Homo sapiens: one gene and its partner. The protein of the gene in region 1 interacts with the protein of each later gene in a pairwise test. Each region holds a gene or a part of one and is shown in the gene's direction. Other genes may lie near its edges.

The links.
Region 2: the proteins of SPMIP10 (region 1) and NRF1 interact in binary tests that used the Homo sapiens proteins (3 or more experiments, as listed by UniProt).

What each region holds. Positions count from the first base shown.
Region 1 is NC_000005.10:126,627,195-126,634,955, forward strand, and holds the start of SPMIP10 (sperm-associated microtubule inner protein 10), read left to right. Parts: upstream 1-4,510; 5' UTR 4,511-4,540; coding exon 4,541-4,626; intron 4,627-5,351; coding exon 5,352-5,460; intron 5,461-7,761.
Region 2 is NC_000007.14:129,705,346-129,712,940, forward strand, and holds part of NRF1 (nuclear respiratory factor 1), read left to right. Parts: intron 1-3,729; coding exon 3,730-3,888; intron 3,889-5,028; coding exon 5,029-5,226; intron 5,227-6,129; coding exon 6,130-6,231; intron 6,232-7,595. UniProt on the Homo sapiens protein: Transcription factor that activates the expression of the EIF2S1 (EIF2-alpha) gene. Links the transcriptional modulation of key metabolic genes to cellular growth and development.

The sequences.
Region 1 (7,761 bases):
GGTTGCTTTTTATTTATAAAGGATGCAAAAATAAAATTAGATTTTTGGCAGTCCTTAATGAGCTTCAAGTGATTATATTTTTAAATCTTGAATGTTTTTTCATAAAAATGCTATAGCCAAGAAAAATATTTTTAAAAGGTAATTGGATATTGACCCTAAGACAATTTATGGGAGGTGATTTTAGAAATAGTACATTAAGAAAGATAATTATTCTGAATACTTAAATGCCACATATTAATGTAAATATTGCCAATTTTTCTAGCAAAAGTTATGCCTTTTAAAGGGCGTTGATGCCTGAAGCTACTTTATCTTCATCAAGATTGTTTCTTCCCCACACCTTCCTGGTTTTTTAGCAATAGTTGTTTTTTTTTTTCTTTTTCTTTTTTTTTAAGACGGAGTTTTCACTTTTGTTGCCTAGGCTGGAATGCAATGGCACCATCTCAGCTCACTGCAACCTCCGCCTCCCGAGTTCAAGCGATTCTCCTGCTTCAGCCTCCCAAGTGGCTGGGATTACAAGCACACGCCACCACACCCAGCTAATTTTTTTGTATTTTTAGTAGAGACAGGGTTTCACCATGTTGGCCAGGCTGGTCTCAAACTCCTGACCTCAGGTGATCCACCTGCCTCAGCCTCCCAAAGTGTTGGGATTACAGGCATGAGCTACCACGCCCAGCCAATAGTTGTTTCTTTAACATTTGGAAACCACTCAGATTTCTGGCTTGTGTTGCATCCTACTGCCATACAGAAAGCAGTGCTTCAATTTTTAAGGTTATTTCTTTTTTTCAAAGTTTAGGTTTTTATTGAATATGCTGTAAAAGAGGTTTAGTCAAAAAGACCAAAGCCCATGTCCTCATCAGATTCCTCGGATTCTTCTTTCTTTGCTTCCACTTTCTTCTCAACTGAAGCAGCAGCAGTGGAGGGGGTAGGATCTCCAGCTGCTGCAAGTCCACCAGCCCTTACATTGCAGATGGGGTTCCCGATGCTGACATTGGCTAGGGCCTTTGCAAACACGCCAGGCCAGAAAGGTTCAACATTTACACCAGCTGCTTTAATGAGGGCATTGATTTTATCATTATGCAGAATGAGGGCCGAGTAGATGTAGGCGAGCTCGGAGAGGGAGGCCATGGCACGGGTGTGTGTGGGGCTGGCGCTGCTGGATGAGGTGCTAATCGCCGGATGAAGTGAGGCTCTCACCCCAATGTGGCCTTAGCTTCCTTGGAATGACCAAGCACCTTGGCAGCAGCTGAGGAAAGGGCAGTTTTTAAGGTTCTTTAAAAATTTATCGGCCCGGCATGGTGGCTCATACCTGTAATTCTAACACTGGGAGGCCGAGGCAGGCGGATTGCCTGAGCTCAGGAGTTCGAGACCAGCCTGGGCAACACGGTGAAACCCCGTCTATACTAAAATACAAAAAATCAGCTGGGCATGGCAGTGTGTGCCTGTGGTCCCAGCTACTTGAGAGCCTGAGGCAGGAGAATTGCTTGAACCCGGGAGACGGAGGTTGCAGTGAACGAAGATCATGCAACTGCACTCCAGACTGGGCACAGAGCTAGACTCCATCTCCAAAAATATAATAAAAAATTATCTAAGATGACTCTGAACCTTTCTGGCTATCCAAATCAAGATGTGCAAACTGTTCTTAGGTATGTATTCTTTTAGTTTATGCTCTCATCAAACCAGCATATCTTGCAGTAATTCTTCCTGCTTAGCCTAATAATATTTTTTCTACTTGCCAGTGGGTAGGACTTACACTAATAACCATCCACCTCTCTGTTATAGTAGTTTAAGCATTTATCCTCACTAGTAACCTTTCTTTATTAAAATCAGTTTTCATAACCTAAAATATTCTGCAATATGACAAATCTTAGGGGATAAAATAGGCTGGATTGGTTTGAGTTTAAACAAATTGGATTTACACTCTTGAGCTGCATGTAATAGATGGTGAAACATAAATGGGACACATATCAGTTGTGCAGTATATAGTGATGTTGAGCATTTTTTCATTACTTGACCTTTGCATGTGTTCTTTTGAGAAATGTCTACTAAGATCTTTCACCTTTTAAGACAGTGTCTCGCTGTGTTGCCTGGGCTGGGAGTGCAGTGGCACAGTCATGGTTCACTGCAGCCTCGACCTTCCAGGCTCAAGCGATCTTCCTGCCTGAGGATCCATCATGCTTAGCACCACACTGGTCTCGAACTCCTGGGCTCAAGCAATCCTCCTGCCTCAGCCTCCCAAAGTGCTGGTATTATAGGCATGAGCCACCACACCCAGTCATTTTACCCAGTTTTAAATCAGATTGGTCATTTTTCACTGTTCTTTATGTAGTCTGGTTTTTAACCCCTTGTCAGATATATATTTTGCAGATGTTTTGTCCCATTCTGTAGGTTGTCTCTTCACTCTTGTTTCCTTTGCTGTGCAAAAGCCTGTCAGTTTGATGTAATCCCATGTGTTTATTTTTGCTTTTGTTGGCCTGTTTTGCTGAGGTCTTATTTTAAAAATCCTTGGGCCAGGCAAAGTGGCTCACACCTGTAATCCCAGCACTTTGGGAGGCTTGAGTGGGTGAATCACATAAGCATAGGAGTTCAAGACTAGCCTGGGCAACATGGCAAAACCCCATCTCTATAAAAAATTTAAAAATTAGGCTGGGCGCGGTGGCTCACGCCTGTAATTCCAGCACTTTGGGAGGCCAAGGCGGTCAGATCATGAGGTCAGGAGATCAAAACCATCCTGGCCCACATGGTGAAATGCTGTCTCTACTAAAAATACAAAAATTAGCTGGGCGTTGTGGCACATGCCTGTAATCCCAGCTACTCGGGAGGCTGAGGCAGGAGAATCGCTTGAACCAGGGAGTCGGAAGATGCAGTGAGCTGAGATCGCACCGCTGCACTCCAGCCTGGTGACAGAGTGAGACTCTGTCTCAAAAAAAAAGAAAATTTTTAAAATTAGGCAGGCATGGTAGTGCACACCTGTGGTCCCAGCTATTGGGAGGCTGGGGTGGGAAGATCACCTGGGCCCACGATTGATTGAGGTTGAGGCTGCAGTGAGCCGTGATTGTGCCACTGCACTCAACCTTGAGTGACAGAGTGAGAACCTCCGTCTCAAAAAAAAAAAAAACCTTGCCCAGCCCAATGTTGTAGAGTATTTCTGTATGTTTTCTAGTAGTTTTGTAGTTTCAAGTTACATTTAATCCTAATCCATTCTGAGTTGATTTTTGTGTATGGTGAGAGGTAGGGGTCTAGTCTCATTCTTCTTCATGGGGATGTTCAATTTCCCCAGCACTGTTTATTGAAGAGACTGTCTTTTCCCTCGTGTGTGTTCTTGGCACCTTTGTTGAAAATCGGTTGACTGTAGGTGGCATACGCAATATATAAAGAGGAAAATCAGCCACGGACCAATACAGAATGTTAATTTGAAGTGATTATTTTTTAATTACTGAATAATTGTTCAGTTCAACGTATTTTCTAGTATGTGTCAAATTTGTGTCACAAACATCTTCATTTTTAATTGCTCATTATAAGAATGATGTTCTACTCAAAAAGGAATTTGTTTTATTTTGTTTTGTTTTGTCTTGTTTTTTGGAGACAAGGTATTGCTTTGTTGCCCTGACTGGAGAGCCGTGGTGCAATCACAGCTCACTGCAGCTTCGATCTCCTGGGTTCAAGTGATCCTCCTGCCTCAGCCTTTCAAATAGCTGGGACCACAAGTACATGTGACCACGCCCAGCTTGCTTATTTATTTATTTATTTATTTATTTATTTATTTATTTATTGAGATGGAATCTTGCTCTGTCACCCAGGCTGGAGTGGAGTGGCATCATCTCTGTTTGCCGCAACCTCTGCCCCCGGATTCAAGCAATTCTCCTGCCTCAGCCTCCCAAGTAGCTGGGATTACAGGCGCACACCACCATGCCTGGCTAATTTTTGTGTTTTTAGTAGAGAAGGTGTTTTACCATGTTGGCCAGGCTGGTCTTGAACTCCTGACCTCAAGTGATCCACCTGCCTCGGACTCCCAAAGCGCTGGGATTACAGGCATGAGCCACTACACTTGGCCAAATTTTTTTATTTTTTGTAGAGACCGGAATTTACTATGTTGCCCAGGCTGGTCTCAAATTCCTGGGCTCAAGTGATCCTCCTGCCACATCCTCCCAAAGTGCTAGGATTACAGGCATGAGCCACTGTGCCAGGCCAGAAGGGGGATTTTTTTTAAAGCCCTGAAAATAGCTCTGAGCTGGACACTTTTTTTTTTTGATTTAGAGTCTCACTCTGTCACCCAGGTTGGAGTGCAGTGGCGCAGTCTCGGCTCACTGCAACCTTTGCCTCCTGGGTTCAAGTGATTCTCCTGCCTTGGCCTCCTGAGTAGCTGGGATTACAGGCACCCACCACCACACCTGTGAGCTGGACACTCTTAACTGCTACTGTAACTGCCGAGAGTTACTATGAAGTTAGCAAAACATTGTTACATCAGAGCAGCGTTGTCATCATAATTAGACTAGTGAGTTAGTGAAGTTTTAGATGAGTATTCCATCCATTGCTGTCAGGAATGGCTTCAGGGAAAGATACTTGTCCTACTTTGCCTAAACTCACTAACAACTGCTCTGATGAGAGTCTCTATAAATCTGCTAATAAGTAAGGATTTATGGGATTCTGGGGTTTTTTGTTTGCTTGTTTTGCAACCTGGGAGCCACAAAGATACGGTCAATAACTTTGTGTTCCCCTTTGGCATCTATACAGAAAGCTTTATGTTCCAGAGGGAAATATGTGTGCAGGGAAAGCAAATCTGACCTGAGTGTAGAGCATACATAAATTCAGAAGCCAATATAGTTTCTGTTTTTTGTGGCTGGCCAGACATTTCCTTTAGGCAGTCGGTAGGCCTGAGGCAAATCTAGGTGCCTTGCCTTTTCCCTTAAAGTCAAGTTAAAATGGGCAGGGTGCAGTGGCTCACGGCTGTAATGTCAACAGTTTGAGAGGCCAAGGTGGGTGGTTCACTTGAGGTCAGGAATTCGAGACCAGCCTGACCAACATGGCAAAACCCCAGCTGGGCATGATAATGCACTCCATCTCATTAAAAAAAAAAAAAAAAAAAAAAAAAAAAGTCAGATTAAAATGGACATTGTGGGCAAATTGTAAAGGACAGCATGCAGTTAGAATTACAGATACCTGGCCCTGACTTGATCTTGCTGATACATGGGTACTTAAATGGTTATCTTTTAGCTGAGTTTCAATGGCACAGCCGTCTGTCCTGCAACAGCAGGGGACCAAACATGAATGCACAACTGCCTCCAGTGCCTGGAATGATGCTAAAATGATTGTATTTGGCTCACAAGATGTCTTCTTGCTTTCCTAATCATCAGGTATGAAGAGATTCATTTGCCACGATTTTCATTAAAGCAAGGGATGATCCCAAGACGTTATGTCATGCCTTGGAAAGAAAACATGATATTCAGGAATGTGAATCTGAAGGTATTTCCCCATAAGCACACATAAGGAAAAAAAACAAAAACAAAAACATTAAGCCGGATGCGGTGACTTGTGCCAATAATCCTAGCACTTTGGGAGACCGAGGCGGGTGGATCACTTGAGGTCAGGAGTTCGAGACCAGCCTAGCCAACTGGCGGAACCCCATCTCTACTAAAAATATGAAAATTAGCTGGGCATGGTGGCGGGCAGTTGTAATCCCAGCTACTCGGGAGGCTGAGGCATGAGAATCTCTTGAACCCGAGAGGCAGAGGTTGCAGTAAGCCAAGATTGCGCCACTGCAATCTAGCCTGGGCAACAGAGCTAGACTCTGTCTCTAAATAAATAAATAAATTTTACATATATATATATATATATATATATAATTTAGTATGTCTGTGATAGACGTGTGTAACTATACAAAAACTATTTTGATGTACTGTCACAAACTTGCAAACAAATGTTAAATAGTAATATCTGTTTAAATAACCTAATTATATACCGAAGAATTTCAGAAACTCTACATCATGCTATCTTGCAGTTGTTAAACTCATCATCAGAAGATGCCATTAATATTAAAGGTACACTACAAAGCATATATTTTTTAGATTATACTGCATATTCAGATAGAGAGGCATGGGAATATTTTGGCTAGTTTACACATGATTTACCCATTCAATGCTCCTGTTCAGTCAGCAGTTTTATTTATTTATTCCTTTTTTTCTTTTTGGAGACAGGGTCTCGCTCTGTCATCCAGGCTGGAGTGCAGTGGCGTGATCACAGCTCACTGCAGCCTCATCTGCTGAGCTCAATTGATCCTCCTGCCTCAGTCTCCCAAGTAGCTGGGATTACAGGTGCACATCACCACACCTTGCTAGCTTTTTGATTTTTAGTAGAGATGGGGTCTCACTATGTCTTCCAGTTTGGTCTTGAACTCCTGAGCTCAAGCAATCCTACTGCCTCGGCCTTCCAAAATTCTAGGATTACAGGAGTTAGCCACCACACCGGGCCTACTTTATTTATTTATTTAGAGACAGGATCTCACTCTGTCACCCAGACAGGAGTGCAATGATGCAATCATGGCTCACTGCAGCTGCAGCAACCTCTTGGGCTCAGGTGATCCTCCCACCTCAGCCTCCTGAGCAGCTGGGACTACAGGCACATGCCACCATGCCCGGAGAGTTTTGGTATTTTTTGTAGAGATGGGATCTCTACTATGTGGTCCAGGCTGGTCTCCTGGGCCCAAGCGATTCTCCTGCCTCAGCCTCCCAAAGTGCTAGGATTACAGGCATGAACCACTGTACCCGGCTCCAGTCAGTAGTTTTATAACAGCAGGAAAACTACTATAGGTAAAATGCCGCAGCCACTGTAGAAGATAGTGAGACCATTCTTCAAAAAATTAAACATAGAATTACCATATGATTCAGCAATTCCACTTCTAAGTATATGCTCAAAATAATTGAAAGCAGGGATTCCAACAGGCTTGTTTTAAAACATTTTCTGGCTGGCGTGGTGGCTCATGCCTGTGATCCTAGCACTTTGGGAGGCGGAGGCGGGCAGATAACCTGAGTTCAGGAGTTCAAGACCAGCCTGGCCAACATGGTGAAACCCCATCTCTACTAAAAATACAAAAATTAGCCGGGCATGATGGCACATGCCTGTAATCCCAGCTACTTGGGAGGCTGAGGCAGGAGAATCGCTTGAATCCGGGAGACACACTGCAGCAAGCCAGATCACGCCACTGCACTCCAGCCTGGGCAACAGAGCAAGACTCCATCTCAAACAAATAAATAAATGTTTACTCAGACTTACTACAGTCTTAATATTAGTCTGCATTTCATGTAATTTAGTGGCATATCAAGGTCATTTTCAATGCCCTAAGTAGCTTCAGCATGGTGACAGTACTGACTTTTTCATTTATGAGAATTATAGGTTGTAAACTTTATAAGTTGAAATCAGTAAAGAAAAACTTTGTTTTGATTGCATCAAAACACTTATTCTTGACCTTACTTTTAGAGTATAATTCAGCATCATTTTTCAGAGCTATTTTACTTTTGCAATTTAGTTGACAGTGTTCCTACCAATGAAACTTAAATAAGTGAATTAAGTAAAGTGAATGTGCCCACACTGAGTAAATGCTAGTAAATGCTAACTTATGCTTTCCTTCCTTTTATTTATCCTCACCATTTTTCCATTAGGAGTTAAAAACTGCATCTAACAACATTAAAAAATATAGCACACAGACTAGGTGCAGTGGCTTATGCCTCTAATCTTAGCACGTTGGGAGGCTGAGACAGGGGGATAGTT
Region 2 (7,595 bases), on another chromosome or scaffold:
AGTTGAGCGATCGTAGCTCACTGCAACCTCCGCCTCCCGGGATTAAGCGATTCTCCTGCCTCAGCCTCCTGAGTAGCTGGCATTACAGGTATGTGCCACCATGCCTGGCTAATTTTTGTATTTTTAGTAAAGACGGTGTTTCACCATGTTGGCCAGGTGGGTCTCAAATTCCTGACCTCAGGCAGTCTGCTCTCCTTGACCTTCCAGAGTGCTGGGATTACAGGCGTGAGCCACCAAGCCCGGCCCTTGTGTTCTTTTTGGTAGAAAGAGCTAACTTAAGAGAAGTGAGTCTGAGTGCACTGACTCACACCTGAAATCCCAGCACTTTGGGTGGTTGAGGCAGGAGGATTGCTTCAGTCCAGGAGTTGGAGATTGGCCTGGGCAATGTAGGGAGACCCCTTCTCTACAAAAAGAAAAAAAAGAAAAGAAGGAAAAGTAAAGAAAAAAAATAGCTGGGCATGGTGGCATGCGCCTTTAGTCCCAACTACTGAAGGCTGAAACAGGAGGATCCCTTGAGCCCTGGAGGTTGAGGCTGCATTGAACTGTGATCATGCCACTGCACTCCAGCCTGGGCCACAGAGCAAGATCCGAGAGTGAGAGAGAGAGAGAGAGAGAATGAATGAATAGTTAGTATATGTTCCACAAAGAATGTAGGACTTTTCTGGGCACTAAAGAATGAGTGGCGGCATTAGAATAGTAGCATGGAAAATAGTCCAGCCAGGGGACAGAACAAAGGCAAAGAAGCGGGAATGGGCTTAGCAGCTCTTAAGACAGTGCAGAGATTTGTCTGATGGAGGACCAAGGCTGAGTGGTGGGAATTAATGGGAACTGACTGTAGTGTGAGGCCAGATTGTGGTGGGTCTGAAAAGCTGGGCAGAAGGATCTAGTTTAGTTGCCATAGTTAAAAGACATTTGGAGGTGTTTTGAGCATTGGAGCTATGTAGGTAACATTTAGGAAAACCTCTCAGGCAAGGATATGTGGGAAGAGGGAATGAAGGGAGAACTTGGAGTTTCCCAAGAAAGCCAACTAGAAGGATACACTAGCCTTGGGCCAAAAAATTAGAATAAAGGTGGGGCCGGAGAAGAAGGGATAGACACCAGAGACGTTTCAAAGAAAACAAAAGAACTGGACTTGCAATGTGTGACTAGGTAAGTGTTGAAGGAGAAAAGTAAAGATAACTTTGACATTTTTAGTTTGAGTGGCCGGGGAAAGGGTGGTTTTCTACTTGCTAAGATAAAAAAGTTGAGAAGACAAGTAGATTGGAGAGAGGGTAGGGTAGGAGTTTAAGTGAAGAGGCTGATGCTGAGCCCACCTTTCAAGTAACATTGAGTTATTGGAACTCAGTTGGAAGGCCTGGTGGGAGAGCCGAAGGAAGACTTGAGGGTGAAAGATATCCACGTCCAGGTGCCAACGTGACCCAGAACTGAGGAGCATAAGGAACTATTGGTGCAAATAGGGTGAGGCGTCAGAAGTGAAGCGATCACCAGAATTAGGGAATATAGAGGGTTCCAGGTGGATCTGAGCAGACTCTGTCAGTCTAGTATTCTCCACAGTGAGTGCTTTCTGATCACTTTAGGATTTCTGTTTTGTTTGTTTGGTTTAAGACAGGGTCTTGCTCTGTCACCCGCTTTAGGATTTTTGTTTTGTTTTGTTTTGTTTTGTTTTGAGACAAGGTCTCACTCTGTCACCCAGGCTGGAGTGAAGTGGCACCATCATGGCTCACTGCATCCTTGACCTCCTGAGCTCAAGCGATCCTCCTGCCTCAGCCTCTCTAGTAGCTGGGACTACAGGCACGTGCCACTGTAACCGACTGAGTTTTGTATTTTTGGTAGAGACAGAGTCCCACTGTGTTGCCCAAGCTGGTCTCAAACTCCTGGTCTCAAGCATTCTGCCTGCCTGAGCCTCCCAAGGTGCAGGGATTATAGGCATGAGCCACTGCACCCAACCCACTTTAGGATTTTGTTAATTTAGAATTATTTAGCCTTCTCATTTCATTTTCTCCAGACTCTCCTAGGTATGAATATAAAGAATTCTCCTTTTTGGAAACTGTTAATGGTATTCAAAGAAAAGGGAGTTTATGAAAGTCTATATCAATTTAATCTATACCTCTGAGAAAGCCATTTTTTTTAACATGAAGAAGTATAAAATATTGTGTGTGAAGATTAAGCCCTTTCTTGCTCTATGTATTTGAGCCTAGAAAAAGACACACTCCCAAGAAATTAGAATAAAGGGAAAAATGACTTTGAGATGTACTTTCTTAAAATAACTGAAGTAATGACCGCATGAGCCAGCTGATGGGTTTTTAAATGGATACGTTTCTATCAGCCTGCTGCTTGATGCCAGAGCCAAATATATATGGAGTGTATTATATCATATCCTGTAGGCAGGAGACTGTTGGGGCATTGGGGGACTTAGAGAGGTGAAGTGGCAGGCTTGGCACAGGAATTAACAGCATGGCTACCGTCAACCAGAACTTTATTAGGTCAACATTACTGATTGGGTTCATGGTTCCCTATTATGTAACAATTTGTATCATCTTCTCGTAAAATAATATCTAATATTTATTATAAGAATGATAAGAATACCTGATATTTATAGAAATCTTTAATATTAAAGTGTTGCTGTACTCATTCTCTCATTAATACTTAATTATTCTCATTTCTGTTTTTTCTTGTTTTACTTTGTAACTACAAATCCACACCCCCGAGTCTGATTCATTGCTAAAAGTGGCCTCTTTTTGGTTTTCAGCTGCAGGGGCAGTATGGGTGCATCCTTAGTTGCAGGATGCTACTTATATCTGGAGTGCTATAGACCACCAGGTTAAAAGGAAGACAGTAGGTCTGGGAAGGAGGAATAGATCATAAATTGATAAACTGCTTTTCTTGCCAGAAATCATTATCAGCGATTAAGAATATTCACAAAGTAGACCCTCCCCCAACACACACAGAGTGTGGTTACTATGCCAGGAAATAAGAATGGCAGTTGTCTTTGTGGTTTAAAACCTGTTTGGTCTGGATTTGATTTGTAAAATAAATCTGAATGAAGTCCATAATGCATTTAAATTCACACATGCTTTACTATGTCTATATGTCAGACTCATGGACAGTGGCCTAGCTTACTGGAAAATTTCTAGAAGAGTTTTAGGGTTATTTTCCCTTTTTATTAAGTTAAAGGCCTGTTTGTTTTCCTATATTTTATAATCAGCCACCTTATTGAATTCTCATTATTGTTTGTAGTAGTTTTTCATTTGATCTCTTTGGAATTCTCTAGATATAAGGTGACTTCATCTATAAATAATAATGATTTTATCAGCTCGCCTCTTATTTCTCTCTTATCTAATTGCATGGATTCCTACTTCCAGAACAGTGTTGAAAACACCCCGAGTTTGGCACCTTACATGCATGAAAACTGTAGAAGGGAAATAAGCTATAGTACCAGTAATATCTTGGGAAGCAGAAATTAAACTTAGGGGTAGATATTCTTACTCTTAGAGGAACAAGTCTACAAAATGCAGCCTAAGGTGCACTTTATCAACATATTTATAATTCTCAACCACCCATGGAGATATAGGAACCTATGGAAAACAGTGGGTTTTCATCAGTCACATCTTAGAATTCTCTGGGACCTTCCTGGAAACCTCTCTGTTTTATAAGGTTAGAATTTAAGGAGTCATAAACACACCCCAGATGTCTTTCATGAGTATTGATGACCACACTGTTCTCTTCCAGGCCCAGCTTCGGGCATTTATCCCAGAGATGCTCAAGTACTCTACAGGTCGGGGAAAACCAGGCTGGGGGAAAGAAAGCTGCAAGCCCATCTGGTGGCCTGAAGATATCCCCTGGGCAAATGTCCGGAGTGATGTCCGCACAGAAGAGCAAAAGCAGAGGGTGAGAGTTCCTCTGACTGAGTTGCCTGGTTGCTTTTCCATCCTAAATTAACCACCTCAATTTTTGTCATTTCTACATCTTGTGCTAGAAAGTCTTTGTGTAATAGTTAAGCCTGTCCCTCCAAAGACTGATATTCTTTGATTTATAGCCTTTTCCATTTGTCGCTCCATCACTATACTATAAAGAGAAGACTGGGTTGAGTTGATGAATTTAAAATGTGTCTTCGGGGTTGCCTTTTGGAGCAGTTTTAATTTTATGAAGTGCTTGGGAAAGTCAAAGAAACTTGAAGTAAAAGTATTAATCACTTTGAACACTTAGAAATGCTTTTATTTCTGGTTACTAAAAATCATTGTTGAAAATGTAAATATGGAATTAGAGGGATATGAAGTCTGCCAGCTGAGTCTGCTAATAACAAAACTTTTACAAGAAAGACTAAACTACCTACCATTCCTTACTTTTTTTGCGTATTTATTTTTCTTTTTCTTTCTTTTCTTTCTTTTTTTTTTTTTTTTTTGAGACAGAGTCTCACTCTTGTTGCCCAGGCTGGAGTGCAATGACGTGACCTCGGCTCGCCGCAACCTCTGCCTCCCGGGTTCAAGCAATTCTTCTGTCTCAGCCTCCCGAGTAGTTGGGATTACAGGCATGCACCACCATGCCCAGCTAATTTTGTATTTTCAGTAGAGATGGGGTTTCTCCATGCTGGTCAGGCTGGTCTCGAACTCCCGACCTCAGGCCATCCGCCCTCCTCAGCCTCCCAAAGTGCTGGGATTACAGGCGTGAGCCACCATGCCTGGCCACGTATTTATTTTTCATTTAGCTTGGAAGTTTACTGAGAATCTTAATATGCCATTCTTGATCAGAATAATCTTTCTTTGCAAGAAGTTTAAGAGTTTGGCCTCAGGTTGGAATAGGGTGTAAACTAGACTTTGATCAAGAAGAAACCAATGAGAAGCCCTCTTTGATACTTCGTACACAGCTTCTTTCTACCAGAACCAGTCTGTGGGAGGTAATCCTAGGAGAGTCTAATAAGAGGTTTGGTTTGGTTTGATTTGATAAAGAAGTAGCTGCTTATTGCATATTGGGACTAAATAACCAAAGTTCTTTGTGGCTTAATGTGCTTTTCCGGTCATTTGGTGACAGGTTTCATGGACCCAGGCACTACGGACCATAGTTAAAAACTGTTATAAACAGCATGGGCGGGAAGACCTTTTGTATGCCTTTGAAGATCAGCAAACGCAAACACAGGCCACAGCCACACATAGTATAGCTCATCTTGTACCATCACAGACTGTAGTCCAGACTTTTAGTAACCCTGATGGCACTGTCTCACTTATCCAGGTGAGTAAACCTGAGGGCTACCAGACTGTGGCTTCTGAGATGGATCAGTGGGCACCTCACCTCAGACTAGGGAAAGTTTCCTTTGTGCGAACTCTTGTATGAACTTTATATAGCTCCCCAAGATCTTCCTACCTGAAATTGATTTCTGAAGAATAGTTTAAATTCTTTGCATTTGCTAAATACAGAGCTATGAGTAGCTTCCTGGACATTTCCAAAACAAAGCACTTTTAAAGGGCTCTTTTTTTTTTTGAGACAAGATCTCTCTCTGTCATCACAGCTCACTGCAGCCTCAACCTCCCGGGCTCAAGTGATTCTCCCTCCTCAGCCTCCCGAGTAGCTGGGACTACAGGTGTATGCCACCAGGCCTGGCTGAATTTTTTTTTTTTTTTTAAGTAGAGATGAGGTCTTGCTATGTTGCCCAGGCTGGTCTCAAACTCCTGAGCTCAAGTGATCCTCCTGCCTCGGCCTCCTAAAATGCTGGGATTACAGATGTGGGCCACCATGTCTGGCCTTAAAATGACTTCTGTTTTACAGTTTCACTCTCAGTGATCAGGGAATATTCCTTCTGAATGACCTCTTCTGAGGTAAAACACAATTTGTTGATTGGGAACCTCTAAAGTTCAGATTGAGGTGAGAATAGAAAGTTGGTTGACCAACACTGGGCATGGATGTGGCGATGTGATAGCTTTTCTCATATGGACTTATTTGGTTGAAGTAAAATTCTGAAACTCGTGATAGTCTCTGAACTATGATTTTAGTGAGCTATGATTTTAGATTTCACATCATAAGGCATATTCTTTGTTATCTGTGCTGAATTTGGGATTAAATGAGTCTCAGCTTCTGAGTAAAGAGGTGGAAGGATCCATCCACTGACACTTAACCACTTTCCATATTTTTCTTTAGGTTGGTACGGGGGCAACAGTAGCCACATTGGCTGATGCTTCAGAATTGCCAACCACGGTCACCGTTGCCCAAGTGAATTATTCTGCCGTGGCTGATGGAGAGGTAAGAAAGAGATTCCATCTGCATCTTCTTAAATACTTGAATGTATAATGAGGGAAAAGCAAGGGTCCAGAAGATGGAGTAGCCTGCATGTCTGCGGCACTCTTTCATTTAAACCTTTTAAAGAGCATGAGACCATGAAAGTTTTAGAAAGTGTCTTATGCTATGTGTATTAATTGTAACAATTAAGATTCATGGATTAGTATGTCAGGAACTTAGAATTTTACATTTGAATGTATAGCATTTGGTATTATACACAATACAAAGGGATTATCCCTTTACCATTTTTATGCTGTGAATCCCAAAGAATTTCATCTTTGGTCTTTATGAAAAAAAAATGTCACATTAAAACTGGAACTGACTAAGGGAAGCCTTCTTTGAAAGGATAAATATGTTTGCAAGTCAGTAACATGATTTATTACATCTTAAATATGCCTTTGAAAAGATTTCTTAGGAGAATTCTTCCTTACCAAAATTGGGATAATTATGGGACATTAACCTAAAGACAGCCAACCTTTATTGATCACTTGGTGGGCTAAACACTCAACCCTATGAAGTATAAAGTTCTGTTATCTTCACTTTAGAGATGAGAAAACCGAGACATAACAGAGCTTAGATGATTTGCCCAAAGTCCCATAGCAGTGTTGAAGCTGGATAATGCATTGAGAAAAACATTACCTAGGCTCTGAGCCATTGGTGAAGATGCAACAGTGAAGGAAGGGGTTTGTTACGTCACCATGAGTGTTTCCCTTGAAGATACTGATGTGGTGTGCTGAAGTTTGAAAAATAGCCAACAGATGTCAAAGAGCAGTATCAGAAATAAAGCTAAGAGTATTATCTCACCCTTGTTGAGAGCCATGGAGCATTTCCCCTTAGAACACCACAAAGTCACTTTCATTTGTGCCCCTCAGGAGAGGGGGAGAGCTGGCAAAGGCCACATGGCTGGGAGATGGAGGGAGAGTGCACCACAGGCTCCTTGGCCACCCTGCATGTGCCAAACCCCTGTGTAGCTGCAGCTGTGTGGAGTTGATTCGCACAGGATCCTTGCTGTCATGGGACTCCAGTCTAGTGGGGAAGAGAGATGTCTACGTGAATGAACTCTAGCCTTCCTGTAAGGGATGCTGCAAAGCGTATGTGCCTCCTTTCCACCTAAGGAGCCTGGGAAAGTTTGGGACACTGAAAAACTTGGTTATTGGGTGAGGAAAGGTGAAGGTTGACAGGACACTTACTTTCTAAGTATATAAACATCATTAAAGGATATGGATTAGCAAAGCAAAGAATTTGTCAGTCCCAGAACACTAGAACAAGATGACACTCCTTAAAGTCTGAAAGAGGTGGAAAAGACAACGAGGGGTACAGTTAGGAGA